Homo sapiens: one gene and its partner. The protein of the gene in region 2 interacts with the protein of the main gene of each other region in a pairwise test. Each region holds a gene or a part of one and is shown on either strand. Other genes may lie near its edges.

The links.
Region 1: the proteins of ZNF148 (region 2) and JADE1 interact in binary tests that used the Homo sapiens proteins (3 or more experiments, as listed by UniProt).

The regions. Positions count from the first base shown.
Region 1 is NC_000004.12:128,864,407-128,880,510, forward strand, and holds the end of JADE1 (protein Jade-1), read left to right. Parts: exon of another isoform or gene 1-226; intron 227-3,449; coding exon 3,450-3,567; intron 3,568-6,948; coding exon 6,949-7,856; 3' UTR 7,857-10,818; downstream 10,819-16,104.
Region 2 is NC_000003.12:125,359,482-125,375,585, forward strand, and holds the start of ZNF148 (zinc finger protein 148), read right to left. Parts: upstream 15,845-16,104; 5' UTR 15,621-15,844; intron 15,229-15,620; exon of another isoform or gene 14,746-15,228; intron 1-14,745. UniProt on the Homo sapiens protein: Involved in transcriptional regulation. Represses the transcription of a number of genes including gastrin, stromelysin and enolase. Binds to the G-rich box in the enhancer region of these genes.

The DNA of each region.
Region 1 (16,104 bases), on a different chromosome or scaffold from region 2:
GAGTGTTGGGATTACGCCACTGTACCCAGCCTTAGACTCAGTTTAAAATGGGCTTATTGTAATGAAAAAAAATACGCTACCCAAAATTTGCCATGATGCCTGTGATGGTGAAGGCATTAAACAATTGAAATCTTTGCCTTGCCCAGAGAGTTGCAGTTATTTGTAATTATAAACAGTAAGTGTATCAGGGCAGGGGTGACAATAAAAAACCAATCATTACTACCAACTTGTTTTCTCAAGTAAGTTAGTTTTCTGTTTAATTCACACAATATCAGTTTATAGCAGATCCTCAAAAATCATTTAATACCTGTGACTACAATCAAGGCATATGATCATTCTCAGACTGACAAATAAGTAGCCATCATTAGAAATGCAGACAACTGAGTAATTATGGTGACTGCTCTTCCTTCAGACACACACCTCGGGGCATTGCATACCTGGGTACCAGTTCTGGATCTGGAAGTTAGGTGACAGGAGTAGATTTCAGGAGGGCTTGGGAGCACACAACTTTAAGAAGACACAGTTGCTGATGTGGTGGGTAGCCATGTCATTCCCAAGGCTGCCACTTCACTCTCATTCCTTTCCCCTAAAAGATGCAGTAAATGTGAGTTCAGCAAATGAGTATTTATTCAGATAAAGACGTGCTACCACTGCACTCTGGCTAGCGTTATGGAAAGTGGCCAAGTCCTGGGGGCAGTCCTGTAGTCACTCAGTGGAATGGTCACCTTTGAAAATCTGGTAGTGGCTACAGTGTCCCCTGAACAAAAGGCACGTTCAACTTTAGTGCTGCAAACAGTTTTGGATTCAAGAAAACACTGAAACCACTTTTAGATGTCTTAGAGCAGTGTATCTCAGGGTGTTGTCCCTGACCCAGAAACTTAGGAATGCAGATTCATGGGCCCCACCTCCAAAGGGTGGTTCTGTTTTGTGGGTACCCCATGTTTCTGTTTGGGAACACTGCTTTAGGGGAAAGGGATGATCAGGTTTAAGGTGGTGTGAGAGTGCACCTGGAGATGGTTTAAATGTTTTTTAAGATACCTCCTTGCAGGCAGTTGGGAGAAGATAAAGCAGGGGAGGGAGCTTGGTGGAACGGGTGCAGGAAGAAGGGACAAGCTGGATGTGTTTTGAGGATGGGAGAGCATCAGTCCAGCTCTGCAGGTGGAGGTTGCTGAGCGTTGTCCTATAGGGAACTTTATGCATAAGGGAAGTCAGGTTTAGAGTCCTCACTACTATAAAGTGGAGTTGGTCAGGGCTGATTTGTTCCGATTGAAAACCATGCCCTTTGCTTTTTGGGTTTACATTTAGATATTTCCCATCAGAGATCATGAGGAATAGCAGTGGGATTTTTCTATTTAGCAGCCATGGTGTGGTCAAAGCTACCAAAATTAAATTTGAATAATATACAAAGTTCAAATTCCCTGGCTTCCCCGTTTTCCATTTTTAAGGATAATTTCAAGTAAGAGAGATGTAAGTATTTCTATTACATGTCTGATTTGAATATGAGAGCAACCTGTCTGCTCCTAAGATGTCAGGATTTGTTTCCATTTTTTATTTCCAGGAGTCAGATTCCTTGTTAATGTAAAAATGGTTCTGTTTCCTAGAAGTTTTGAATCTGCTATGGATCTAGGTCTGGCCCCTCGTTCTTGAGCTTCACTCTTAATTTCCCCTGGGTGGAACAATATCGAAGAGAGGAGGATGTTAGCCACTTCCATTCCCAAGTTGGTGAGAATTTCTATAAAGGACACCTGCTTCTTGGATTGAGGGTGTGCAGCTGTCAGAGAAGGGAAGAAACTACCTTAACTAGGCTGATTGACATCCATGTAATATTTACTATGAGACAGGGAGAGTGTTTTTATTCTCAATTCTTTAAATTTAAAATAAGACAGGAAATGTTAGTGACATAAGGGATTGTTAGAGAAAAAAAGATGGGAAGATCCGTAAAGTGAATTTGTTAGGGGCAGGAGAAGCCTGACTTGGCATTTTCCTGTTTAGGCCAGGAGATATTACCATAATGCAAATGTGAAAGCCTGTGTTCTGTCTCTCTTAATGCTTCATGTCCTCTTGCAAATGAGACTGCCTTCAGCACAGCTGGAATTATTAGGGTTTAGTCTACACTTACGCTCTACACCAGAGTGCAAAATCTTTTGTGTCTTCACAAGGCTTGTTGATGCTTGTTGCTGTCCTCACTGCCAAAAGAAAAGGTTGGTGACCTTTGGACTTTTTCCACTTAAAGTAGGGTGATACTACTTTATTGAGTTTATGGGGAAAAAATTATAAAGGTGTCAGGGGAAGAGTTTGCTCATAATGGGATATTTTTAGGAAAGTGAAGGCATGCCTGTAGGAGCTAATGGGAAAGATGTGGTCAGATAAAGATGCTACCACTCCTGCCACTGAGATTACTTAGGAGGTCTTGTCCACATATTCCTGAAGAAGGGTTTAATTGTGTATTTGGTGTGCTGTGTCTGACATCTGTGTTTGCAGGTCCGTGTAATCTAATCAGGTTGACCAATAGAAGATTTTAGGACTGAAGGATTAGGGGAGTTTAGAGACTAATTCTTTAAGTTTTGTGTATTGAGTGATGACAGGTGGGGAACAAATCTAAATGTTGATTACTGAGCATAGGTTAGGGTTATGTGATCCAAAGCAGTCACACATCAGATAGGAAGTAGAGCCAACTCTTAGCACTGGGTCTTTTCAGTTACAAGCGAATCGGGAGAGGGCAATACCAGTTTTTCAAGTGATGATGCAGAGAACTGGACTGGAGATGTCTAACCAGCAAATCATTGGCAAAGCTGGAAATTTCCTAGGCATTCGCACACCTCATAGCAACACATAAGCTACCTGCTAACTCCAGGCCTTTCAGTGAGTTCAGTGTGCAGTTGACAAAGACATTTACTAGGATTCTTGGTAACCATTTGGTCTTCCAGTGGGCCTGGTGCAGGGGGCTCCACTTTGATGACCCTTGGCCCCATGTTTACCCAGTTCAGCCTCAGAAGATAGTTGATAAAGTGCAGAAGTGGCTTCTGAACTGCTTTAAAGCCATTGGCCATCCAAGTAATAGAAGATATTGATGCAATAATTAGCAAAGTCGACTGGCAAGAGGTTGCAAGTTTTGACTTGGACACCAATGGCCTCTGTGCCGGGATGGGTTAGGTGTGATGGAGGAGGCAGGACTTTTGTAGGAGTTCTCTAGGTGTCCCTCCCACTCCTGTGGGTCCCTAACCCTCTTCGATGTTGCTTCTGCCTATGTTGAGGGCTATATGTGGAATCCTTCTTATCTGCCCAAAAGGAGATCAGAGATTGGATAAAATGTTTAAAGTACCTATTGATTTCAAGTATCTGTCAAGGCCCTAGTAGGAGTAATTTCTCTTAGGTAAAGAAATTTAAAAAGCACCAAAGTACTGTTATACTGTATTGCTTACTTAGAATCTTTATTCTCTACATTCTAGGTTCGGAACCTCACTTACATGGTGACCCGCAGGGAAAAGATTAAACGGTCTGTGTGCAAAGTCCAGGAACAGATATTCAATCTTTACACTAAGCTTTTGGAGCAAGAAAGAGTTTCAGGTATGCATTAAGCCCTGGTAGGTCAAAGTATAGGGCAGGGGTTTGTAAGCTTTAACACTGTTGAGGAAGAAATAATCATTTCTTAATTTTCTTATAGAAGAATTTAAGAAGCATAGACGTTCATATTTAAAGGAAGTCTTTAATTTGAGGCATCATGTTTAAGGGAAAAAGCTATGAATTTGCCCTCTATAAATATGGGTGGAATCCTGTGTTCTCTGCTTACTGAGCAAACACATGAAAGTCTTTTGAGTCTCCCTAATTTCTTCATGTGCAAAATGGAGATATCGCAAGCTACCTCTTGGAATTGAGAGACTAAAATGAAACAGTGACTTATATATTACACAGTACTTGGTAAACACATCATGGGGATACCTAACAGGTTTATATTCAGCCTTGGGCTCTATCTGTAACATGGTAAATATGGTCAATATATGTTAAGACTGTACTTAAGACACAGTCCATTTTTAGATAATGTTCACAGTAGATTTTTTTTGTGTAGATGGATTGTTGACTATTTCTGAGATTGAGCACCAAATATTTATTTAGTGTCTTCTATTTTATATTGCCCTGGGCTAGGCAAACAGAAAAAGAAAACTAGGGTATATACTTCCTCTACTCTGGACAACACATCAGTTACTTGGGAGATCAAGGGCAAAGATCAAGTTGGGCAGGTTGTTTAACCTCTCTGAGATTCCGTTGATCTTAAAGTTTGTTTTAGAATCAAGACCCCTTAAGTGCATTTGAGCCCTATATTCTGTGATCATAAGCCCCCAAAAGTAGGTAGTATAAGGATTTCAGAGAAGCAGAGCTGCTGAGTGTGGATCAGGCAGAATTAGGGACCCATGGAACAGGTAGGTCTTAGACTGGACTTCATTGGAAGATAGTCAGCCTCTCTCCTGCCTTGGACTGCCCTTTAAAGTTCTAGCTGCACCATTCTTGGTGCTTGCGTTGTGCAATCATAGTTGATTCACTCTTGTTTTTGTGCATTTGTGGCTTTTTGTCACTCCATCTAGATTATTATGGTGCACAGAGAACAAAGAAGTTGTTATAACCTGTTGTGTTGAAATCCAAATTCTGGTTTATCTAACCAATTATGTGCGACTAGAGGGAGCTCGGTCATCTGAAGAAATAAAAAAAGGTTTAGGGAGGTTTAAATAATGTTCTTGAAGTGTTACATAGTTTGAATGCAATAACTTGTTGATATCCTAGATATTTTCTTCCCAAGATTAAGTATTTTCCAGGTGAATCAAGTGTATATCATTAGCTGGAACTTGCAGTTTAATTGTTAAGATTTTAAAAATAAATTTTCTAAGTAGGGTGTCATATGTAAAAGTAGGTCGATTCAGATTCCCTAAGGTGAGCTCTCTCTTCATGATTCCTACCTGAATACAAATAAATGAGATCTGTTTAACTGCCTTGGAAGACTGTCTGGTGCAGATCACCGAGCCTACAGCAGCAAATGCTGAGCTGGGATCACTAATACAAGTTGTGCCTGTGGAGTTGTGCCATTGGAGGGCTTTCTGCAACTCTTAGGTCATTATGTAATGAGTGATTCCCTGTAAAAATAAGCCGTAAAGAGCATTTTCATCTGGTTTCATTTGAGTTATTTCTCATGGATATTGCAGGCAGGTTTTTGCATTTCATGGCTGAGGTTTTTACTGGGTGAGCGAATGATATTCTTAATAAGTCTGGGAGTTATTTTGTGGTAACAGAGCTGTAATGTAGATCTGCATTCAGAAGTCCTACTATTTCAGAAAAGGAAAACAAATCTTCCTTTCATTCTGATGTAAGAACCATAGGTATGATCAGTTGAAAACATTTATCTTCCTGTAGGATTCTGTTGAGTAATGCAGTTGAAACCCTTTAGGGTGCTTTTTTTCTTTTTCCAGTCCTAGGCTTCAGTCGTGTTCTTATTCATGCCTAAAGGCTGTCTCCTGCCTGAAGTAGAGCAGATGGTCATGATTTATATGTCATTTAGGGTCCATGGTTTAAACTCTGTGATTCTGAGAGTGGGTAGGGTCATTTGCTGAGAGTGTCCTCAGTGGCAACAGTGCTTATGGGGGGTGGGAGGGTCATGAGTTGGAGGCTCTTTAGAGACATGGATTACAGTCAAGGAGATAGAAATCAGAGTTCAGAAAATGTTAGCCTCTTCTTACCATTCTCTTTTCCTGTGGCAGGTGATTGAGTAAAAGAAATATATGCAGTGTGATGTGAAGGTTGATTCTAATGATTGATTCTTGAGAAAGCAGCATTTCCAAACCAGCAGGTTGTAAAACACCTCCTGTGGTCATGACAGCTCTGTGTTCTGAGTCGCTAGCTATGTTTCATTTGCTTGCAGTGTCTGTGTCTGGTGAGCACTAGGTTCTCATATGGCCTCCTGTCTCATAACCTGGGGGCTGAACCTTGTTTTCTTGGTGGCTCATATCTTATGGGAGACAGAAAACATGAGAACTGCTCTTTCTAGATGATCTTGAGGCTGTTGTAGAATCATGGTCTTTATGACAAACACTAATGTGTTATGAATTCACCTGCTAGGGGTAACAACTCATTAGTGGGTTGTGAGATGAATTCAGTGGGTCATGACCAGTATTAAAAACAAGTAAAGTATAATAGGAAATGTCAGAGTACATTATCAAATGATGAGGGTTAATATTATTTCGTGAAATGTGAACTCTTACTAGGTCATGCTGTGGAATTTAGTCACTGTGATTTGCATCAAAAAATACGAAAAACATCAATTTAACTTACTTCAAGTTGAATGACAATTCAGTTGAATCCCACAAATGTATTTTGCACATAATAATAATGAACATTTTTGGAACGCTTACTATGTGTCAAGAATTATTTCACACATTTCCTTTATTCATTCACATGTTTACATGTACTTGTCCTCGTAATAGCCCTGTGAGGGTACAGACACATAGAGAAACTTACAAGCCCCGAGCCCTGCTTTTTGGGTCCTCTCAGTCTCGTACGGGAGGCAGAAGACTGGACCGTGGAGGAGCGCGGCGCAGGTGCTGCTCTGTAACCAGGTAGAGGGAGCAGAGGCAGCCATCAGCCACCTGATGAGTTCTGCATGGAGTCCGCTCTGAAAATCAGATCAGTTATTTTGTTTGGAGGAGGTCTAGTTTTATGAAAAATTATGTGAGCTTCAGCTGTTTTAGAAAATGTGGCATATTGAGTCTGCAGATTGAATGGAGATTCTCAAGGCAGGTCATCTCTTCACTATAAAAACCAAATTTGTACAAACTTGGTGGTGTAAGTGTTGTGTTGTTGGGTGGGGAGTTCACATCAATTGGGCCACACTAAGGGTGTAGAATTTTATTCTTTTGGATTTGCTTCTGCTGTAATTTTTCTTTATTTGTGGTTTTATGTTTATAGGTGTGCCTTCTTCCTGCTCCTCCTCCTCACTGGAAAACATGCTTTTGTTTAACAGTCCTTCTGTTGGCCCTGATGCTCCCAAGATAGAGGACTTGAAGTGGCATTCTGCATTCTTCAGAAAACAAATGGGTACTTCCTTGGTTCATTCGCTGAAAAAGCCCCATAAGCGAGATCCTTTGCAGAATAGCCCTGGAAGTGAAGGCAAAACCCTGCTGAAGCAGCCAGACCTGTGTGGTAGAAGGGAGGGGATGGTGGTCCCAGAGAGCTTTTTGGGTTTAGAAAAGACCTTTGCAGAAGCACGTCTCATATCAGCACAACAGAAAAATGGTGTGGTGATGCCAGACCATGGGAAAAGAAGAGACAATCGTTTTCATTGTGATCTCATTAAAGGAGACTTAAAGGACAAATCTTTTAAACAGAGTCACAAGCCTCTCAGGTCCACAGATGTGTCCCAGAGGCATCTGGACAACACAAGAGCTGCCACCTCCCCTGGAGTGGGGCAGTCAGCACCTGGCACAAGGAAGGAGATAGTGCCCAAGTGCAATGGCTCCCTAATCAAAGTAAACTATAATCAGACTGCAGTCAAAGTGCCTACAACACCTGCCAGCCCAGTGAAAAACTGGGGAGGATTCCGGATTCCAAAGAAGGGGGAACGGCAGCAGCAGGGAGAGGCCCACGATGGGGCCTGCCACCAGCACTCAGACTACCCATATTTGGGCTTAGGCCGAGTTCCAGCCAAGGAAAGGGCAAAAAGCAAATTAAAATCCGACAATGAGAATGACGGGTATGTCCCCGATGTGGAAATGAGTGACTCAGAGAGTGAGGCATCAGAAAAGAAATGTATACACACCAGCAGCACTATCAGCAGAAGGACAGACATTATCAGGAGAAGCATCTTGGCTTCTTGATGCAACAGAGATGATGCGGAAGCCCTTTGGGCTCGTCATTGGGTTTGCTAGAGGAGAGCTCTGATGTGGGGGAGAAGCAGAAACCCATTAATCCTGAGCTACACAAACACATTTACTTGCAATTCAGATTAATTTTTTTCCAGAGTCATTTTTAAATCATTTTTGTGAGAAGTTTGTGTTATTTGCAACTTGTTGAGGAAACAGAAGAGTAGATTGTAACCATAAGACACTGCTAAGACTAGAACCCGAACTGAACACTAAAATAAAAATGAAATGTTTTAAAGAAGGCAAGGCTTAAATAAGCCTCATGAATTTTTATAGCCCTCTGCATTCTTCCCAAAGCACAAACTCATGGTTACCTGAATATAGGGAACCAGATATGGTTCTTGAGAAACCCTCATGGTACCATTCACAGCCCATAAAGTTTATTTTCTAGGACTGTGGTAGATCTTGAAATCATATTTATATTTGGCCCTCAAGGCTATTTTTGTTGCATTATAGCATATAGGCAGCAGCTCTGAAGCTTCAGTAACACTAAGAAATTTATGTGTAAATATAGCAGTCAGGGAAGAGAATTTTAAAAAAGGTCATTATTGAAGAAGCTGAGGGGACAGGGTAGAGCTGCTGCAATATGGAGATTTAGGGTAATATGGCAAGGTCCTGCTGCTTGAAGCCTGTGAGTGGGTTGTGGATATGGGACTGGTGGAGAGTGAGACTGTTAGGAAAGTTGTATCTATGAATAAGGGCAGTTGAAGTAGAATTTTTACCAGTCCACTTGACCTTCTTCTTCCCTAACCACTGGCTCTTGAGCCAGCTTGGGATTTCCCTGGCCATTGCCAATACCTGGCCATCTGGCTTCCAATAGTACAGTGGCTACTCAAGTTCAAGCGAAGAACTTCCAGACTCTGGTGACTGTTACTTCCCAGAGCCAACCACTAGTGCATATGTTAGGGAATCTGGGCTTCCAACATGAATGGATTCCTTAAGAAAAAGGAAAAAAAAAAAAAAAAGAAAAAAAGAAAAAAAAAAGAAAAAAGAAAAAAAGAGAAAAAAGCGAAATAGGTTATATTTTAAAAACAATAGAAAGGCAATAAGTTGCGATAAGCTCTTACTATTGACCAAGGTTATACAGGAAAGAGACTGAAGTGTACCCTTGAATAGGTTTTCTGTAGTCAGAGTTCTAAACTCTAATTTGTAACTTGGACTTTCTAATTGCAAATGGCAATAACTATTAAGTTATCAGCAATAATAAATTTAGCATTAAATTTGAGTACAATGTTTTGTTTTTGCACTCCCCATAGTGCGTATGTATTAAGACAGTGGATAGTGTTTAGGTCCTGTTAATTTTCTTTGGAATTCAATGTGGTTGTGAATCAAACTTAAGGAAGGAACGTTTAAATAGCAATGAGATACAGAATTATGGGCCTTTGGAACAAGCCCGACTTCCCCTAAATTCTCCTTAGTTTGTTAATACCAGTATTCAGATTCCTGATTCATTTATACATCTGTTTCCATATGGCAGGGACATTATGATACTTAATGAATAATGCTTTGAGGAGTTCTGCAGTTAACTTTCAAGTCTTCCAGATGATTGTCAACAACAAAAAAGGCTTATTGAATCCCATCTTGCTATGCAAGTTTTATCAGATGATCAAATAGTAGATCTGATACATCCCCATTGTATGTACGACATTTTCAAACCAAGTCTTAACTTTTCAAGGACATTTTAGTAGCTAATTCAGGGGAGGGGGAAGAATGATGCAGGTTTTTAGATTGACTGACTATTTTTGAGTTATGGGGCTCATTTTGAAAGACTGCTGTCCAGATCAGCTTGTTGCTGCAGATAATAGAAGGTTCTTATGAATCCAAGTTGTATATTCACTTGTAGGATAATTTAAAAATTAGATTTTTTTTGCATATGAGCAAAAACCTTTTGCTGGATACAGGAGAAGGTTGGACTTTATCTACAGTTATCTTTTGATTACAGCAACAGCTCTGGGTGAGAGTAGAATTTATAGAGGGATAATTTGTCAAGCCATAGAAAGAAAATCTAAATTAATCTAGTAAGTGTATGACCTCTCACCATTTTAAGAGGTATCAGATTCATTTGCACTATTAGGAATGCTAGTTTTGTGCAAAAATAATGCCTTACCTGTTTTTTCCCCACATTTAGGTTGAAAAGCTTTCAAATGTTCCAAGTTATGCTGAACCAAAAAAAACAAAACAAAAACAAAACAAAAAATATTAAAAAAAACCCACACAAAAACAAAACACACAAAAATAAAAAGCCCACACTTTTTATTCCTGCTTCGAAATGCAAATGGATAGAGCACGGTTTCTCTGACAGTATAATGATAGCTTTGTGAGTTAGTTTCATGTCATGCTGGGAACTCTCTATGAGGTGGCCATAAGCAGCAACCAGCCCAAACACCCACTTGCGTTCTATTAGTATGGAACCATTTGCATTTGTTTTTTTTAAGCTTTATCTTTCCTTGTGCATCCTGACCAAGAAATATCTTTGATTATGATTAATGTATTATGTCAAAATGTAGGCTAGTTAAACTTTTGTAAAGTTGCCTGGAATGTCATTTGTTAGGTTATAAACACAAGATCTAAATGAAGGGTTTTATGTGTTGTGTACAAATCTTATTTTGAAATGGACAAACTTGTCATTACATTTGTAACCTTGTACAGAGGATTTTTCACTATGTGCCTAGCTTGGTGTCCATTCAGCTAAAATTGAAAAAAAAAAAAAGGTGCATGAAGAGTTAAAAATCAAATTAAAGTATATGTAGAGATGACTATTTTATATTACATGACCCAATCCTGTATTTATTTCTACCCCCTTTTTGAAAGTATTTATAAAACTAGTTGAGGACAGCTGTATTTTTTTGTTGAACTATTTAGTAGAATTGTGCCTTTTTGTCTGTATGTGAATAAATGCTGTACATTTTGCAATACATTTTAAGTGTCTTTTGAAATCTGCTTTTGCTAAATATTTAAAGGTATATATGACTTAGCAGTCCTGAATCAGTTGTTTACTGTCTTCCACTTTAAATCAGGAATGAGAACTGTAGAGAACATATCAAATTTGTGCAGAGCACAGATTCACTGGGCTGCTTTCTGGCTCAACTCTGATGGCGAGACTGAAAAATAACGGTTTGAGTTTAGTCTTCCCCACCTGGAGTTCTTTCCAGAATACAGTTTTGGATCTGAAAACAGAATCGTTGAAACAACGTAGACTTCAGGGTCAGAGAGAACTGTATTTAAAGGCTAAACTATAGTTTACCAGGCACATGACATTGGCCAAGTCACTTAACCGTTTTAAGCCTCAGTTTTCCCAGAAAGAGGATAACATCTTAGTAACTTAGATATTGAAGTAGTTGTGATTATTTAAAGCAAGTCCATTGAGCACCTTACAGAGAGCATATATTAGGCATTTAGTAAGTGGTAGGCTATTATTTTTATTAGGAACAAGACACTGATGTTTACAATATTTTAACTAATGAGCTTTCTGAGGTGAAAAAATATTCCTGAATGATGGGACGGTTGTATTTTTAATACAACCTTTAAATAATTTTTAAAAATAATTTTTCAAAGAGCAGTTTCATTAAATGCTTTCTTTTGATCACAGAACTCTGGGACAGTAGGGCAAAAAAATATTATCTGCATTATACACCTTAAGACTTGGCCAAGATCACAGCAGTAGGTACTGGCAGAACTGGGCCTACACTCTCATTCTCATTTCTGAAAAGATTGTTTCCTGCCTGAAACAATCTTTTGTACATCCACTACATGCAGAAATTAGCATATAGTGAAATGCACCTTTTTCTTTATGTTGGGAACAGCAAAACTGGTGTGAATTATGCATTCTCATGTAGATTATAATGATTAGGATCCAAAACAGGGTAGCTATCTTAATCTAATTTATAATTTTTGTAAGGATTTGGCCAGTTTAAAAGAAAAAACAATTATTCGTACATTTTGCTAAAAGCTTCTCATTTCTCCTTAGTGACTATTTACTTCCATATTGCTTGCTCTGAGTAAGACCCCTGAGAGAAACAACTGATTCTTCCTACAAGGTCTTAAAGTTGAATAACCACAATAGTTCCCTAGGGAAATTAAGTCCCCAGGAGCCAAAGGAAGGGCCTATCATTGGCAGCTGTGCAATCTGTGATGGGAAATGTCACACCAGGGACTCACGTTCATGTTTTCACCCAAATCACTGAAAAAACAGTTTCTACCTTTGAAGCATTAGCCATCTGCAACAAACTTCACAATTAACTTCAAGGTTGAAATCTTCAATATGATTTCCCTTTAATGCTCAGAACTCCATTAGATGATGTGTTCTAGTCTGAGGTAGGCTTTGATTGTCTGGTCATTGAAAAAGAGGATAAAGGCAAATCCAATGGTATCTACTTCCTTCACTTCAACTGTTCCCTGTACTACTTACTCAGTTTGGTATTTCTGCAATCCAGCTTTTCTGGAGTGTGAAGAGATTGCTTATTGGGCATCCCCTCTTGGATGTATACAGGTACTTGAGATTTTGGAACTCTTTCTATATCCTGTTTTAGAGAATGTCCTCCTAGACTGAAACCTGGGAGTCCTTTATGAATTCTTCAACTCTCACAGCCAAATAGTGATCAAGGCCTGTGTATTACATTTAATATTGCCTTAATATTTTTTGCTTCGATCCCACCACCATTTGCTATATAATTCAGGTCTCTTCATTTTTTGCCTGGATTACTGGTTTCCTTAACACAAGTCTTGCTGAAATTAATCTCTCCAGCATTTGGCTGAAGCCTTGCCAATGGTATCTCCATAGTGATGACTTCTGAAATAAAAGCTGATTTTGTCATTCCACATAGCCTTTGGGGGAACCTCCTGACTTCTGTAGATAATTACAAAGGTTTATCAAGTGGCAGGCACTGGTATGTATTATGTTAATTAGTTTAATCCTTATAACGTGAAGTAGGCACTATTATCTCCAATTTACAGATGAGGAAACTGAGGCACAGAGAAATTAAGTAATTTGCTCAAGGTCAGTAGGGGTAGATCTGGGATTCAATCCCAGCCTGTCTGGGATTGAGACCCGTAGGCTGTACTGCCTCTCAGAATATAAAAATAGTTCACACATGGCCGGGTGCAGTGGCTCACGCCTGTAATCCCAGCACTTTGGGAGGTGGAGGTGGGCAGATCACGAGGTCAGTAGTTCGAGACCAGCCTGACCAATATAGTGAAACCCTGTATCTACTAAAACTACAAAAAATTAGCCAGGCGTGGTGGCACACGCCTGTAATCCTAGCTACTCAGGAGGCTGAGGCAAGAGAACTGCTTGAACCTGGGAAGTGGAGGTTGCAGTGAGCTGAGATTGTGCCACTGCCCTCCAGCCTGGGTGACAGAGTGAGACTCGGTCTCAAAAAAAAAAAAAGTTCACACAAAGTAGTTAGCATATTTAGGACTACACGTGTAAACTTCAGTTAAATGAATTGGTAAATTTATTGGTAAAGCCAATAAACTTGGTTAAAACATGTTAATGCACTGGTTAAAAGACTTTGAGTATAACCTAATAGATAATGAGCAGGATAGTCTGCTTACAGTCAATTAGTTCCAGCCTTATTCTAGGGAGAATGGAATTAATTGTCACATGCATATTTATGTAACACACATACATACAAACATATTTACAGATCAAATATATGTATATGTAATCAAAGAAAACAACACTGCTATCAAAGAATAAAAAGAATAACTGAACTCTACATCCTAACTGCTTGGAAAGTTAGTTACAGAAATACTTAAAATCACATAGTTTCTTGATGTTGAGAACTAATATCTTAACACTAAATTAAAGCTACGTAAAACCTCCAAGTCGGCATTTTTGTGATATGAAGTATAATAAATCCAGTTATTTTTACAAATGAATAAGCAATGCAGAATTAAGTAGCAAAGATAAAAATAATGTGTATTGTCATTCCTAATGTATCGCCAATGTGTCCTGATATTCTCACTACTACTTGGCTTATATATGGCCGAGTTTTACAAATTACATTTATAATTATGGGTTAATGTGATTATTTTACTCACTAATCTGGGGTGATTGATAGTTCTAACTTCAGGATTATGACCAGTGTAAAACAATTTCTTTATGAAGCAAATCTTTTTCTTTGGTGTTTCCCTTCCCATGCAACAGTTTCAAAGAGAGCTTTTCTCCTTTTTCCCACCAACTTTGGCTCTAATTCAGTTCCATCCTTGGAGCTTCTCTTTTTTATATCAAAAGCTTGTGATGGTATCTTTGCCTCAACTAGTCTCAAGTACTCTAAGTAAATACCTTTCAAACTCCATACTTTAAAATATCACACTCTGAAAGGAAATTATGCATTATATCACTTTACAATAACTAAACACAATTTAACATTTTTTTGGTCGATTAAAATTGGTGAAATTGTCATCACTCATTGAAGAAATCTGGAAACTTTCAAAAGAGGTATTAAGCTAATTATTATAACTTCCTTTGCTTAGATCTATTTTTTTCTACTACTTTACTTACATTTAGCTTGTGGCCAATTTCTTTTCTAGGTCTGGAAAATTTACCAAATCCCACTAGATACGAAGATACTTTGTTCTAGCAAGTTTTTAGGGCTATATACATAATCTGAAAACCAAAAGAGCTTTTCGGGTAGTGCCAGTCAGAAAGGGAATTAAAACAAAAAGAGGCTCACTCGGGAGGGGGGAGGGATAGCATCAGGAGATATAACTAATGTAAATGACGAGTTAATGGGTGCAGCACACCAACACGGCACATGTATACATATGTGACAAACCTGCACATTGTGCACATGTACCCTAGAACTTAAAGTATTAAAAAAAAAAAAGCTCACAGCTCAGACTTGTTTTAAGGTTGATGAATGAAAAAGTGGAAGTAGAATTTTTTGAAACCTATTTGGCATCTATATGTTCAATCAAGAACGCTGATCCTTGAACTGCAAGGACAGAGTGGACACTGGTAAGATGATGAGGGTCACTTGAAGTCTAGAATGTGTGAAGCATTTACATGAGAGCATCTAGATGTTTACAGTGAGTTCAAGCCTCCTGACCCAGATGAATTACATCCCATGACACTTGGAGAACCTATAAAGGTTACTTTTGAATCACTGTCAGCAAATGGGAGAGGTGTCAAAATTATAAATTCCTCAAACTCTAAAGATACAATGTTGCACAATAGTACAATTCTGGTGTTGACCAGATCTGGTCCAGCTGTGCCACCTGCCAGCTATGTGACCCCGAGCAAATGATTTAACTTTTACTATACCTCATATCTTTGGAAAGGAAATAACACCTACCTAGAAGGGCTGTCGAACTATATGAGGTAATAAATGCAAAATGTTAGCATGATGCACAGCACATGACAGATGCTCCACAAACAGACATTATTAATACACATAAGCATGTTACCATAATCCAGAGAAACTCTCCACTGGATTGTTTTAGTTATTTGAAGAAATATGCTTATAACTTCTCTTATTCTCTTTTATCCCATAGAGTAGTTTAAATGAAAGGAGATCTAGTCTCACTTTTAATCTTCCTAGATGTAAATATTAAAGATTTCCTTATATTTTATATTATGCTCTGATAACTTTTTCATTCACTGAAAAAAGGACTGTGCTGCCATAGAATGAAAACATTGAACGAAAACTTCCATAATGCCTTATCAAAGGAATTAAAGAGTTTTAACAAACATAAAAGGAACATGCTGTGATTACTAGGATGCCACATGGATTTACTAAGAAGGCTAACTTACTTTTCATTTTGGACAGGATTACTAGATTACATCTGGAAAATATGACTAGTATGGCATAAATGAATTTTTGCTTGGCAGAAGGCTGGATTTTTCTTGATGTTGTTATGCTAGTGTACAAGTAGCAGTATGGGCCAGATTAAAAACGGGTTGAATTACCACATCTGACATGTGCTGATCAGTTTTATCCATTAAGGGAGTTGGTGCTTGGTATGCTCTAAGACTGTCTATATTTCAATCTGTCTGGTCCTCTTCTTTTTTTCAATGGTTCGAATGAAAATATGGGTAGCATGTTTATCTGATGTGTGGCTAGCATTCATTGTAAATCAAAAATTGCCTGTGGTGCAATAAATATGGCAGTAAATAAAGACAGACATGGCCCCTATCATACCTTTAGAGCTATCAAATGAGGTAACAGAATTAGGAGCTAAAATGACCTCAGCAGGTTAT
Region 2 (16,104 bases):
CACTTCAGGATTATTAAAGTCATTATAGACAAAAAAGAAAGTAAAGAGTCCACTTTAGTTCCCTTAGGACATCTCATTCTTACCATGTGCCCCATTCTTCCACATTTTACCCGAATCTCTTTACTTATGCAAGTTTTTGCCAGTTTTTGCAAACAGAAAACATGATGTGGTTCTCAAGCACACAAATAGAGATCTCAATGTCTCTATCACTGACAATATTTTTTTAAAAGCTGGCATGACATACTGCCACCTTTTATCATGGGTGGCATAGACTGTTCTTATTTGCACAGAGAAAGAATAGGTTTCTGACATCAGTTATTTCCTGCTCACTTCAGCGAGCGCCCACCTGCCTGCCCTGCCATGGGCCAAGAGCACACAGACCCAAGTGGGCGGCAGCCCACCCGCCACCATGCAGCTCCACGCCGCTGCTCCACCAGCTGCTAAGTGCACCGCCAGCACAGGCCCGCCCATGCAGCTGGCACAACTGGGCCTGGGCTGCAAAAGCCCAGGGAATACAAGGGCTCCCTACTTCCCAGTTTAATAAAAATATTACACTTAATGATGCTTGTCAATATCCTCGCCCCTACAAACCATGGCCTGTTTAAACCCCTTTCCATATGTTCTCTCCATATTTTCTCTGCTGCAAGCTACTCTCTCCTCTCTTATGCCTACAACTTCAACTTCCTCATTCATTTCCAGTCCATCTATTTACCAGATCCTATCAGCTTCTCCATGTTCTATTGTCAACAAACAATAGAACATCTTTTGTCTTTTACCTTCATCTTTTTTTTTAGACAGGGTTTTTGTATTTTTTTGATTTTTTTAGACAGGGTCTCACTCTGTGGCCCAGGCTGAGCGCAGTGGTGCAATCATGGCTCACTGCAGCCTTGACTTCCAGGGCTCAAGTGATTCTCCCACCTCAGCCTCCTGAGTAACTGGAACTATAGGTGTGCACCACCATGCCCAGCTAATTTTTTATTTTTGTGTAGAGACAGGGTTTCCCTATGTTGCCCAGGCTGGTCTCGAACTCCTGAGCTCAAGTGATCCTCCTGCCCCTGCCTCCCAAATCACTGGGATTACAGGTGTGAGCCATCATACTCAGCTTACCTTATCTTTAATACACCTCCACCTCATCTTTTGTTTCCAATGTCTCATTTCTTAACCCACAAATATCTTTCAGCTAAATTTATATCAGCATATTACACATGAATGGTTATGATTTTGCAAGTATTATTTATTTTATAAACAAACTGTTGGGAGGCCAAGGAGGGAAGATCGCTTGAGACCAGAAGTTTAAGACCAGCCTGGGCAACATAGGAAGACCACATCTCTTTAAAAAAAAAAAATTAAAATTAAAATTAAAAAATTAAAAAATATATATATACATATATATAGAAAAGAAAAGCCAGGTATGGTGGTACACATATGTAATCCCAACTACTCAGAAGGCTGAGGCAGGAGAATTGCTTGAGCCCAGGAGGCAAGGCTGCAGTGAGCCATGACTGGACCACTGCACTCCAGCCTGGGTAACAGAGAAGACCCTGTCTGAAAAATTAAAAAATAATAATAATAAGAGAACTGGTAAATGTAACAAATCTAGCTATTTTTCTCAATTCCCGTGGCTCAATGATTCCAATCACTATCAACTCTTGCCCAATTATTGTGACCACCTGTCTCATCTTACCTGGCTTTTCCTGGACAATCTGCTTCTCTCATGACTAGCTATATCATTCTCCTACTCCTTCAGCTTGATAAAAAAGGACTTGCTGCTTCTTGCTCCCCAGGACCACTCCCTGTTATCCTATCACTAAAAAATCGCTTGGGAGTCACATTACTCACTGAAACCATTCCTTCTGCAACATCTACCAACCTCCAGAACACCCTCCTATTTCCCCTACCCAATAACTTCAATTCTGCTTGCTCCCAAATTCAGCCATTATTCTCAATGACTTCAACAAAGATGCTCAAGAACTTTCTACACCCTGACCTTCAAAAACTCCTAAGACCTTCATCTGCACTTCAGCTAGCCACAAAGAAACAAAACAGAGCCATCAACTGAAAAGTGCTAGGCCGGGTGTGGTGGCTCACGTCTGTAATCCCAACACTTTAGGAGGCCAAAGCAGGTGGATCACTTGAGGTCAGGAGTTCGACACCAGCCCTGGCCAACATGGTGAAACCCTGTCTCCTTTAAAAATACAGAAAATTAGCCGGACATGGCGGCTCATGCCTTAATCCCAGCTACTTGGGTGGTTGAGGCAGGAGAATCACTTGAACCTGGGAGGCAGAGGCTGCAGTGAGCCAAGATTATGCCACTGTACTGCAGCCTGGGTGACAGAGCGAGACCCTGTCTCAAAAAAAAAAAAATAGTTACAATCCACTAGGATTGTAACTTCAGAGACCACCCCCCTTTTCTTTATCCACAACTACTTTATGTTCTAGTTGTAGACCTGCTCTTTACCTCCACTTGGCTTTATTGTCTCCCTATATAATTTAAACCTGTCCAACAGCCATTTTAACACTGTCCTCTCCAGAATATCATGACCTTCCATTATTCTCACTATGCATCTCCCCAGTGATAGACAATCCTCACCATCTGTTTTCTCCATGCCCACGCACTGGGTGTTAAGCACCACCAGAAAGCTATGAAATCTTCCACAACAGATTTATTCTAAATACAACTCTCCGTCTCATTGACTAATCCAAATCATTTTCATATTTAAATCCCTAATTCCAACAAATACTCGAACCCTTCTATAAAATTCCCTCAAATCACACCTTCTCCACCTGTAATCAAATCCTCTTCACAGCTTCTAAAATGCTGTAACTTCATCCATCTGTTACTTCTTGCCTCCAGTTTTAGAATAAGAGTTGTTGTTCTTCCTTCTCAAACTAAACTTCTTTAATCAATTCCTGTATTTATTGCTTCCATATTCTTCCAACCCACTCAGTAAACCACCATGCACCCTGGTCTCTGAACTGCTCTCTTGAAGACCACAAAAAAAAACAAAAACTAAAAAATCTATGTTCCAAATCATATGATCCCCCACCAAAGTCCTTACCCTTTTTTTGTTTTTGTTTTTGTTTTTTTTTTGAGACGGGCTCTTACTCTGTCACCCAGGCTGGAGTGCAGTGGTTCAATACCAGCTCACTGCAACCTCCGCCTCCCAAGCTCAAGTGATCCTCCCACCTCAGCCCCCCAAGTAGCTGGGACTACAAGTGCGCGCCACCACACCCAGCAAAGTTTGTTATCTTTGGTAGAGATGAGGTTTCATCATGTTGCCCAGCATGGTCTCGAACTCCTGAGCTCAAGCAATATGCCCACCTCAGCCTCCCGAACTGCTGAAATAACAGGTATGAGCTACCATGCTTGGCCAGTCCTTACCCTCTTTTTGGCAATGACACTTAAGCTACCCACCTTGCTTTATGTCACTGTAATGATTCTACTCTGACCTCTCTGGTTGTTTCTTCTATCTGAAATCACTGCTGCTCTTCCTAGCCCAAATTGTGGATATTTTCCCAAGGTCTGACCTGGAGCCTCCTATAATTCTCAGCCACTGAGGGTCTCATCCCTCACCACTGTTTCTACATTTTCATTCTTCATATGGCTGTCTTCCCCCAGCTACCCAAAATAATCTTTAAACCATCACCCTCTCCTACAATCCAATTTACTCCTGAGGAATTAGAATATATAATGATTTCTTTTTAACTAGAATTGGAATGCATAATGATTTCTTTTTAACTAGATTCTTCAACTATTACTTCAATTAACACTTCAATTATCAGTCCAAATAATTTCATAACCGTCAGTGCCCTAACTAAATCCAAAATTAGTAGCTATATAATTATCAACTCTATGTATGTATTCCCAACTCTATATTGGACTTCTTTTCTTAGCTCCAATCCAGTACTGATGCCTCACACACAGGTCAATGTGTCTTAAAACCCCAAAACAGTTCTGCTAAGTGATCTAATAATTTCTACTAATGGCACCATCAATCTCAGTCACCCAGATTAAAAGCCCTAGAGCTTTTCTTCAGTTTTCTTTTTCTCTACTGTTTCCCAAAAGCCTATCTGCCATCAAACCTTCCCATTCTTTCTTTGAGGTATTTCTTATAGCTATCCCTCTCCTTTTATTCCCACTATGACTACCCAACTTATACCCTCAATACTTCACACTTTTTTTTTTTTTTTTTGAGACAGGGTCTCCCTCTGTCACCCAGGCTGGAGTGTAGATTTCAGCTCACTGCAACCTCTGCCTTCTGGGTTCAAGTCATTCTCCTGCCTCAGCCTCCCGTGCACCTGGAACTACAGGCATGTGCCACCATGCCCCGCTAATTTTTTTATCTTTGCAGAGACAAGGTTTCGCCATGTTGCCTAGGCTGGTCTCAAACTCCTGAGCTCAAGCAATCTGCCTGCCTCAGCCTCCCAAAATGCTGAGATTACAGGCATAAGCCACTGTGTCCAGCCTACTTCACACTTTTTCCTAACTTTGTCTCCCAGTCACCAGGTTCTCTTCATTACAAAAAGAGAAAGGTCACCAGATTAGTATTCTTAAATAGTCTCTTATTTACCCGTTCAAAAATCAACACTGGTTCTCCACTGCATACTGACTTAAGTTAAAACTCCTCAGACTTCAGCCAGGTATGGTGGCTCATGCCTGTAATCCCAGCACTCTGGGAGACCGAGGTGGGCAGATCACTTGAGGTGAGGAGTTTGAGAAAAGCCTGGCCAATATGGCAAAACCCTGTCTCTACTAAAAATGCAAAAATTAGCTGGGCGTGGTGTCACATGCCTGTAATCCTGGCTACTAGGGCGGCTAAGGTAGGAGAATAGCTTGAACCCAGAAGGCGGAGGTTGCAGTGAGCAGACATCGCACCACTCCAGCCTGGGTGAGTGAGACTCTGCCTGAAAAAAACAAACAGAACACCTCAGACTTCAAAAAACTTGAAACCATCCAATAATCATGGAATAGATAAATACACTGTGGTATATTCATATGATAGAATACCACACAGCAATGAAAAAAGAATAAACAGCCAAACATAACATGGATAAAACTCACAGACATGCTCCTTGAGAAAAAGGAACTAGACACAGAAATTGGGTTCCACTTATACAAAATTCAAAAACACACAACACTACTCTGTTATGACAAAAGTCAGAATAATAGTTATTTTTGGTTGGATGAGATATCAGCTTGGAAATGGCACATGAGGCATCCTTCTGGAAGTCGGAAATGTCCTGTATATTGAACTGGGTGGTGGCTACATAAATTTATACCTAAGTGCCCTTAAGATTGGAGCACTTTACTGTATTTATCTCAATAAATACATTTTCAAAATCCAAGTTAGCCTGAATTTTTGAGATAGTCTGCCTACTTCCCAGCTTTATTTCCCTCCATTCCTCAACATGAACCCTAAATTATAGCTAATCTAGACCACCAACCCCTAAACATGTCCTGAACTTTGCTCACTGTCACTCATATCACTCCTTCTTCTAGGAAAGCCAACCCTCACCTTCTTGCCTATTATCTTATTTATCCTTCAAGGTCTAAGCTTCGCACCAATTTCTCCACAAAGCCAACCTTGAACAAACCTGCCACAGTACTTGTGTCATAGATGGATGTGTATGTTTTGTCCCTGGATAAATTCCTGAAGAACACGGACTGTGTCATATATAAACATGTATCCTTCACACTCCCTACCATAGAACCTTGCACATGGTAAATATAAAAATATACCCTGAATGAATAAATTCTGGCAGTCCATTGCATACAGTAAATATAAAAATATACCCTGAACGAATAAATTCTGGCAGTCCATCAAAGTATCCTCCAGTCTAACCCTCCTTCTCACATCCACCCATCACTGCTTCTACTCACAATTCATCCCACAGTCCACGTATTTAGTTTCTATCATTCAACAAATAATTGAGCACCTACTACATGAAAGAAACTAAAATTATACTCTAATGTACTGCACTAAACTACCCAAAAATATAATCCAATTTCAGCTGCTGCCATTTGAATATTTCTACAACTCTAAATTTCCAGTCAGCCAGGCATGGTGGCTCACACCTGTAATCCCAACACTTTGGGAAGCTGAGGGAGGGGATCACTGGAGCCCAAGAGTTTGAGATCAGCCCAGGCAACATGGTGAGACCACATCTCTACAAAAAAAATTGAAAATTAGCCAGGCGTGGTGGTACATGCCTGTGGTCCCAGGTACTCGGAAGGCTGAGGCAAGAGGATCACTTGAATCCACGAGGTAGAGGCTGCAGTGAGCTGCTGCGTTCACACAACTGCATTCCAGCCTGGGCAACAGATCAAGAGCCTCACGTTCGTTCATTCAATAATAAATAAATAAATAGCATATTTCTAGTCATCTTCCCCTCTTCCCTACCTCCAACTGCATTCCACTTCCATATTCTAATCCTACTGCTATCAAACTAATTCAAGCCCTTCTTAATATCTCCAGTAGCCACCTAACTGGTCTTTTTGTTTTCTAACTGGTCTTTTCACATACAATCTTACTCTACCACCACATTACCCGCAATCTACCCAGTAAGGTATAGCTATTGCCAGCTATCTAATATACGGTCCTTGGCTCAATTCTCTACTCAGAAAAGTTCAACAGCTATACACTAATGATTTCTGCTAACATACTTTAATCATATGTTAACATACTTTAATTCTCACATCCTCACCATAACCCTTGCCAGGAAAGTATGATTATCAATTTTATGAGAAAATGGAAACTCAGAAAGGAAATAATTCTCCATAATCATACAGTGGGTAAACAGAAGAGCCAAGACTAAAACCCAGCTTCTGTTTGCTTACCAAGCACAACACTACATCATATCAAATACAAACTACTTAGCTTAGCTTTCAAGGCCATCCATTTTCAACCCAACCCCAACTGACTCTCCTACCTTGTATTATACCTTATTCATGAACTCTCTGCGTTCCAAACTATAGATTGTGATTAATTATTTTGTCGGTCATGAAATCAGTTTAATGAGTGACAATCAGCTTTTTTTTCTTCCCCCTTGGCCAGCTTTTTTTCTTTTTAGTCAAACAAAATAGATAACATCCAACTGCACCTGCCACTGTTAAGGACAGTTACTGTATTATGAAACTTCTTGTTTTACCCACACACAAACATTCATACATGCATATATTAGATAGAAGTGTGACATGTATTTCTTACTATAGGTCATAGTTTAAAAATTAAAACCTAACTCACCATTCCCCACATCTCCTGGGCTTCTCACCTCCAAGCCTTTGCTTACGCTAATCTCTCAGGCAGGAATGCTCTCTTTCAGTAATCTTTGCCAATCAAAATCCTATCAATCCAAAACTTAAAAAAAAAAATCTTATCAATCCCTTCAAAGACTAGCTAAAATTCCACTTTTATGCCTTTAAAGTTCTGTCTCAGGTTTTCTCCTAATCAAATGCATTTTCTGCCTTTTAAATTCAGTAATATTTGGTATATTTGTGACTCACAGATATATTTGTGATTATAGTACAGGTATTTGTGCACAAGTCCAGCTGCCCTACCACAATATAAATCCCAAAGGTTTTATTCCTGACAGCAAAGCATTATATGCTTTTGCATATAACAAATGTGCATTATCTGTTAAATAAAGCTCATCCCATCATTTTCTGAAACCTTGTTATAAATCAACATAATTTAATAACTTCTACTATATTCCAAACTTCTGTTGACTCTTATCCTTCAAATAGCCTTACCATCTTCCTCCTCAAAACAGCCGTCTCAAATAATCCTCTTTACCCTCCATCTTCTCATGCTTTCCTCCAAAGATAGCCTGTCATATTTCAGTAATCTTTTCCCTCCTTCAGAATCATGCTTTCTATCAGATACCACCTTTCCTTCCCCATCTGCTTATCTTCTACCTTATTCCTAGTTCTCTAACACCGATACACATTGATCTATATTCTTTAAACAGATTTTTCTTTTCTTCATCATCTCTTTAACCAGATTTATTGAATTATTTCAATTCATTGCTAGTGCATATAGTTTGGCAGCCCTGTTAAGTCCTTTGTAGAAAAAGGCAGGTTATGAATAAATGAAAAAGAAACATAAAACATATAGACAATTCAGATCTCCTAAATTATCTCAAATATCTCATTCATTCATTCATTCATTCATTCAACAAGCTCGTGTCTACTGGACACATGCCCTCAGTTCTGTCTATTCTATTCCGTAATTCAGAAAGCAGCTTTGAGAAAAGCATGCAGGAAAATGCCAGGATAACAGGGCCAAGTTGACTCATGCTCTTCTCTCATGAAGGCCAAGTAATTTGTGGGGTACAGGCTCATAAAAGAACAACTAAAAGTTACACTATACGAAGACGGAAAACAGACCCCATAGTTGTTTCAGGGGGCTCAACATCTACCAACAAATGTGAATCTGAAAGGAACAAACCAGTAGGAGTAGCTAAAATGAAACAGGCAGAAAGCATTCAGACAAAAATAGATCCAGACTCTAGGTTCACTTTAGGGCTGCAAGAGGAATTTGGAGTCATTTAGTTCCTCTCTGAGATCCCTAAGGAATCTTTTCAAATATAAGTATGGTTCACTTAAATCATTTCACCAAACCTTAGCCAATGTTCATTTCTCCATTCCCTGAACTCCTACAGCACTTACTGTCTGTAAAACTCATTTGTGAACTTAAACTATCTTGCTCAAGGTAATAAAATTATTAACAAACATACTCAGAATTTATTTCATCTGAGAAAAATGAGTTTTTAAAAAATTTATTTACACATTCAAATCAGTATGGTCCTCTTTAAAATAAGTTACTTTGGAAGGCTACCACTTACTCATTTATTCACTCCATCCATCCAACCATCTGATGCACTCAACCAACATTTATGTAGTGCCTAACTAACTACATGTGAAGCTATCACCCCTGTTCAAAATATTTCCAACTTCCTCCTTGGGAGTGTTTTCAAAATCAGCTAATAAGTCAACCAAGAAAATTATTCCCGTTTCTGTGATTAACTGGATTTAAGGCAAAACTATTTTTCATTCACTCTATTTGATATTGACTAACCTTCAGCATTTCTAAAAATCAAAATTTCAAAGTAAAAAGATCTGTCATCAATAAGACCATTCAGAATAAGATTATACCATGTATTATTTAAAAGTGTGCCTCTTGGCCGGGTGTGATGACTCATGCCTGAAATCACAGCACTTTGGGAGGCCAAGGTGAGTGGATCACTTGAGGCCAGGAGTTCGACACCAGCCTGGCCAACACGGCGAAACCCCATCTCTACTAAAAAATACAAAAAATTGCCAGAAGTGGTGGTGCACGCCTGTAGTCCCAGCCACTCTGAGACTGAGGCAGGAGAATCGCTTGAACCTGGGAGGCAGAGGTTGCAGTGAGCCAAGATGGCGCCACTGCACTCCAGCCTGGGTGACAGAGAGAGGCTCCATCTCAAAAAACAAACAAACAAACAAAAGTGTGCCTCTTGGGCTCGGCGCAGTGGCTCACACCTGTAATCCCAGCACTTTGAGAGGCTAAGGCAGGCAGATCACCTGAGGCCAGGAGTTCGAGACCAGCCTGGCCAACATGGTGAAACCGTGTCTCTACTTAAAATACAAAAATTAGCTGGGTGTGCTGGTGTGTGCCTCTAGTCCCAGCTACTTGGTAGGCTGAGGCACGAGAATCAGTTGAACTCAGGAGGCGGAGGTTGCAGTGAGCCAAGATCACACCACCGGACTCCAGCCTGAGTGACAGAGTGAGATCCTGCCTCAAAAAAAAAAAAAAAAAAAAAAAAAGCCATAGAAGCCTAGAAAGAACATTCTAGGGTCATTTTAATACATTTCCAGATTTCCCACACTAAAACTCTCCAGAAGACAAAGAATACTGCAACCTCAAAAAAAAAAAAAAAAAAAAAAAGTGTGCCTCTTGAAGGGATTATGAACTCCTAGCAAACAGGGACCATGTTTCGCTCACCTTTATAGACCCCTTCCCCCAACAGCACACACTAGATACTCAATAAATAGGTAAATTCTATAGAATTGTACTCAGAAGTTAATTCAGAAAAGGTGTTCTAAAAACATTCTGAACACTGCTACTGAAAATGACCACCGAAATATAAAAGTTCTTATCTGGAGATATAATTTTGATATTTGTTTTTAAAAATCAACTTTCTGAAATCTTATACCATTACTGAATTATTTCACAACTGTCTTTCTCTCTCAAAAGAATGTAAATACTACTTTGGGATGCCAAGGTGGGAGGATCACCTGAGGTCAGGAGTTCAAGACCAGCCTGGCCAGAATGGTGAAACCCCACCTCTACTAAAAATACAAAAATTAGCTGAGCATGGTGGCACGCTCCTGTAATCCCAGCTACTTGGGAGGCTGAGGCAGGAGAATTGTTTGAACCCAGGAGGCGGAGTTTGAACCCAGCAGTGAGCTGAGATCGCACCACTGCTCCCCAGCCTGGGCAACAGAGCAAGACCCCGTCTCAAAAAAAAAAAAATTGTAAATACTACAAATTCCTTGAGAGAAGAAGCTTATCTGTTATTTTTACTATCCTAAAAAAGAATTAAATCAGACAGTCCTAAAACAGTCATTTATGCCTGAGGTAAAAAAAAAAAATCTAAATTAAACCAGCACCCTGCTACAGACCAGATTTTACTCCAGATTAAACTAGCTTCAAATTTAGAAGAGACCCCTTGGTCCCACCTCTTCCAAGTTGTTACAGAACCACTGCAATTCCATTCTAATCCAGTCTGTCTTCTTCCCTTAAATCTAAAGGTCCTCTCCAGATATCCCTTTTGTCCTTCACGCTGTCAAACACACACACACACAGTTTTGCCTACAATACCCCCAAAGTACTCAGCAATTTCATACAATCCCACTATTATCACTAACAGTGAACACTACTTTCTATCAGTCATTCAACAGGTATTTATTAAGCACTTAAGAATCAACCTGCTGTTAGTTTCCCTAGAGACTACAGGAAGTCTCTGCTCTAGAACAGGTTACAATGTACCATTTGCAAAACAAAGAGAATAATTGTCACAAATACAAAATTTAGCAATACATAAACTACATGTGAATACTGTTACTACTGAAAGTAAGGAAGACTCTCAAGAGTTGCCATTACTTAGACTCCCAAAAAGAAGTGGAGTAATTATCTTTCTAATCTCCCAACATCCACCATAGTGATTTGCACCTCATACACAAATTTCAAAAACATTAATATTTTATGACTCTAACCTAACAGAGGAGATTGGGCCCAGTATAGTTTTTTCCTACCACATTCCCAACATATTAGTGACTTAAACATGCTAATTTCCTTAAAAATGACAAAAATTTTAGTCTCATCACCATAAGGTAAACCTCCTTCACATTAACTATATCCAAATCCCCCTCAAAATTCTTTACCTTTTCTTCAGCCTCCTCAAAATGTATCACCACCTCCATCAAACCCTGTTCCTCATCCTCATCCTCCTCTTACCACATTTCCCATCTCTCCCTACTACATCCCCCCAAAAAACACATGTATATGCCAATCCATTACCTCCTAAAAATAAAAACATAAGAATTGTGGCCGGGCACGGTGGCTCACGCCTGTAATCCTAGCACTTTGGGAGGCTGAGGCAAGCAGACCACTTGAGCCCAAGAGTGCAAGACCAGCCTGGGCAACATGACGAAACCCCGTCTCTATAAAAAATACAAAAAAAGTTAGCTGGGAGTGGTGGCTCATGCCTGTATTCCCGGCTACTTGTGGGGCTGAGGTGAGAGGATTGCTTGAGCCCAGGAGGTGGAGGCTGCAGTGAGCTGGGAACATGCGCACTGCACTTCAGCCTGGGTGACAAAGTGAGACCCTGTTTCAAAAAAAAAAAAAAAAGGGGGGGGGGGGGGCAGGGCGAAGTGGCTCACGCCTGTAATCCCAGCATTTTGGGAAGCCGAAGCGGACAGATCATGAGGTCAGGAGATCGAGACCATCTACAGTGAAACCCTGTCTCTACTAAAAACACAAAAAAATTAGCCAGGTGTGGTAGCGGGCACCTGTAATCTCAGCTACTCAGGAGGCTGAGGCAGGAGAATTGCTTGAACCCAGGAGGCAGAGGTTGCAGTGAGCCGAGATCGTGCCACTGCACTTCAGCCTGAGCGACAAAGCTAGACTCCGTCCCAAAAAAAAAAAAAAAAAAGAATTGCCACAGAACCCTAGAAAAAACATTCAAGGGTCATTTTAATGCATTTCCAGATTTCCCACACTAAAACTCTCCAGAAGACTGTCAAAGAATACTGCAATCAGGCCGGGCGCGGAGACTCATGACTGTAATCCCAGCATTTTGGGAGACGGAGGCGGGTAGATCACGAGGTCAGGAGATCGAGATCATCCTGGCTAACACGGTGAAACCCCGTCTCTACTAAAAATACAGAAAATTAGCCGGGCGTGGTGGTGGGAGCCTGTAGTCCCAGCTACTCGGGAGGCTGAGGCAGGAGAATGGCGTGAACCTGGGAGGCAGAGCTTGCAGTGAGCCGAGATCACACCACTGCACTCTAGCCTGGGTGACAGAGCGAGACTCCGTCTCAAAAAAAAAAAAAAAAAAATACTGCAATCTGGTAACTAATTCCAAGATGAACAACTATCATTGTCAAGCAACTCCTCTTCATCTCTAACAAGCAAATCTTACACTGCAAAGATGGTTCCTACAACATGGTCTTTCTGATAGGTCCATCCAAACTTCTCTTTATCATCTCATCCAGCATTTTTAGTCTAATTGTCAATGTTCTTTCTACTTCAGGAAAGCCATACCTAGGCTAAATCCCTAAAATACAATGGGGAAATCAAGAGATACAGCCTAAGATTGTTGGATTCTAAAATCAAGGTTTAAGCATATTATTTAAAAATATAAACACACTGAATAAAATAACTAAAATAAATATCAAAGGTCAGAAAGGAGGAGAAAGGGGATAATGTCAATGACACATTCATAAACATCTTCTGACTCCGATAATGTCATTTTGATAAATCAAGAAATAATATTATATGCCCATTACTTGGAGACATGGAAAAAAGCATGGTAAGAAATACAAAATTAATGCTTAAAAGTAGCAGCCTCAGTAAAGTGGAACTGCAATAGGCAGGTGAGACAGGGGCTGCTGTTTTTCATTGTAAGTTCCCTCAGAACAATTTTATAATAAAAGAGTAGAGGCCGAGCACAGTGGCTCACGCCTGTAATCCCAGCACTTTGGAGGCCAAGGCGGGTGGATCACTTGAGGTCAGGAGTTCGAGACCAGCCTCACCAACACGGAGAAACTCCATCTCTACTAAAAATACAAAATTAGCCAGGGGTGGCGGCAGGCACCTTTAGTCCCAGCTACTTGGGAGGTTGAGGCAGGAGAATTGCTTGAACCCGGGAGGTGGAGGTTGCAGTGGGCCGAGATCACGCCATTGCACTCCAGTCTGGGCAACAAGAGTGAAACTCCGTCTCAAAAAAATAAATAAATAAAAATTTTTTTAAAAAGGGTAGAAAGACAATAATGACATATTTAAGTGCATTCTGCTTACAAAAATTAAAAGAACAGATAATATACAGTGCTGGTGAGGGAAAAGGGAAGGAAGACTAGCCTTCTCATGCCATGATGACAATAAAATTGAGTACAGCATACTATGTTTAAAAAAGACCTGGCCAGGCATGGTGGTTCACACCTGTAATCCCAGCACTTTGAGAGGCCAAGGCGGGCGGATCACTTGAGGCCAGGAGTTCGACACCAGCCTGGCATGGTGGGGTTTCACATAGTGATGGGGTTTCACCATGTTGGCGAGGCTGATCTTAAACTCCTGACCTCAGGTGATCCGCTCGCCTCGGCCTCCCAAAGTGCTGGGATTACAGGTGTGAGCCACCGCGCCCAGCTGTATATAGTTTTTTCTTAATAAAAGGTGAATAATATCCGGGTAGTTTTTAAGAGTATGGTTCTAGCCCAGAGTTCCCTCTTGGAAATCTGGTCTGGTGTGAGCTCAGCAAATCCAGAGAGAGCTTGGTTCATTTCCTGACATAGAGATGCTAATCCTCCCTCCAACCTGGCTCTAGAGTCGTCCAGTCTCCTAGGTTCCCCTAGACCTTCTGATAACTAGTCCTGACCTCCTTGCAACCTAAAACCAAAACAGATATTCTAGCTCCTCCATTCTGCAGGCCCACACTTTGCTGGCTGATACGTTTTCTTCAATGCCATCATGCCTGAATGAGAGTATTCTCTCACTGGAGAACTCCCTCACAGTTCACTTCAGGAACTGTGAATGGCAGAAGATCTCCCACCAGCCACAGATTTATGGAACCAATCCAGCCAACTAATTTGAGCTACAAATGAAGTATCTAAAGAAGAGCCAGCAAGCATGTCTTCCCCCCGACCATTAATTATAATCTTGTGTACTGCAATCCAGGCTGAATAATACGGCACCAATTCTCCTGGACCAGATAAACTGGGCAGTGAAGAAAACCACCAAGTCAATTAATTTCCATTCCAGCGTTTGCCAGGATAGTATTTACCCAACCTCGGGTAAGTGTTAATACTTCAAATTTTCTAAAATCGAAGCTCCATAGCCTAAGGAATCCCCACAGGCCAGACCCTTTCTCAAGGTCTGCTTCAGAGGTTCTCATACTCATTGGTGCACGTCTAAAATGTCACAGACCAAACTACAGACTAAAATCTAATTCTCAGTGACCCCAACCACGGCCCAGACCCACACTTACCAGATGTCATCTACTGAACAGCCCACACAGGTTCGGAACTAGGCCATCCCGGCCCATCTGGAATAACTCTTCAGTACTTAGGCCAATATTTATTAATTATACTACATCTGTCTATTCTATTATGCATTCCCTGCATCTTCTCTACTATTTAGCACTCCCTCTTGCTTCAAACGCGATCCTTTCTATTCACGGGAACTCCTATCTCCCTTCTTTCCTTCCCTGAGAAACGCTTCAGTTCTTTCCATAATGAAATACCTAACGTATCTGCACAATGAACACCCCCCAGAATCCTCAAGACTCCTCCACAGCCACCTCCCCGCATTCCTCCACCTCTCCGGCATCTTTCCTCCGGCCCCTCGCCCTGTTCGCACTCCCACTACGTTTCCTGCAAGCATTCCCTTTTCTCCAACCCCTGCCCTTCCCTTCTCCCAAAGAGCACACTCCGGCAGCAACAGTGACTGAGGCCTGCGGTGCATAAAGCACTGCACCAGGCACGGTGGACAGAGCCCTGGTGTCTCCCTAGCCTTTTCACACCCACACCCAGCACCCTCCGGCCTCCCCGTGCAAACATCCCACCTCCTCCCCTACCTCTGACACCCGCCTCCAGCCTCGGAGGCCGCCTTCTCGCCTCCGCCACCCCCGTCATTATCCCTCCTCAACCCCCCAACCCACCCTCCGCGCCCTGCTTCCTCACGTCCCCCAGCCAGCCCCAGCGTTTCCCTCGGCCTCGGCTGGCCCCCTGGCCACCCCCAGCCTCGCCACGGCTCGCTCCCCCCGGGGTCAGGCCGTTACCGCCGCGCGCTCCCCCCGCGCGCCGCCCCCTCCCCCTCCCCCGCCCTCCCCCGGGCCCGGGCCTGCCAGGCCGAGCGCTTTACCGCGGGCGGGCGCCGAGTCGCGCGGTCACCGACTGCAGGCGGCGGCAGCTCCAACCTTTCTAGGGGCCTTGAGAGGAGGGGAAGGGGGGAGGGGGGAGAACTTTTGCTGTGGCAGCTTCGGCAACAGCTCCCACCCCTGCGCCTTTCTCCTCTTCCTCCCCCTCCTCCTCCTCCTCCTCTTCCTCCTTCTCTTCCTCCTCCCAGAGCAGTAGAGACGCAGACATGCCGCAGCTAGAGCGCCGCCGCGGTCGCCGCCACTGCCGGCCCGGTGCATTGTGGGAAGCCCCGCACACGGGAAGCGCTCCGCGGCGCCCGCCCTCGTCTGGCGCAGAGACCTGGCTGGAAAGACACAGCGTGGCTTCGATTCCGGCGCCTGCGTGTCACCAGCCCAGGGTGGCCGTGGAAGCTGGACCCGAGCCGCAGGCCCCCCAGGCTGGGCCTGGGAGGAAAGCGGTTTGAAAAAGATCGGAACTGAGGAACTCTC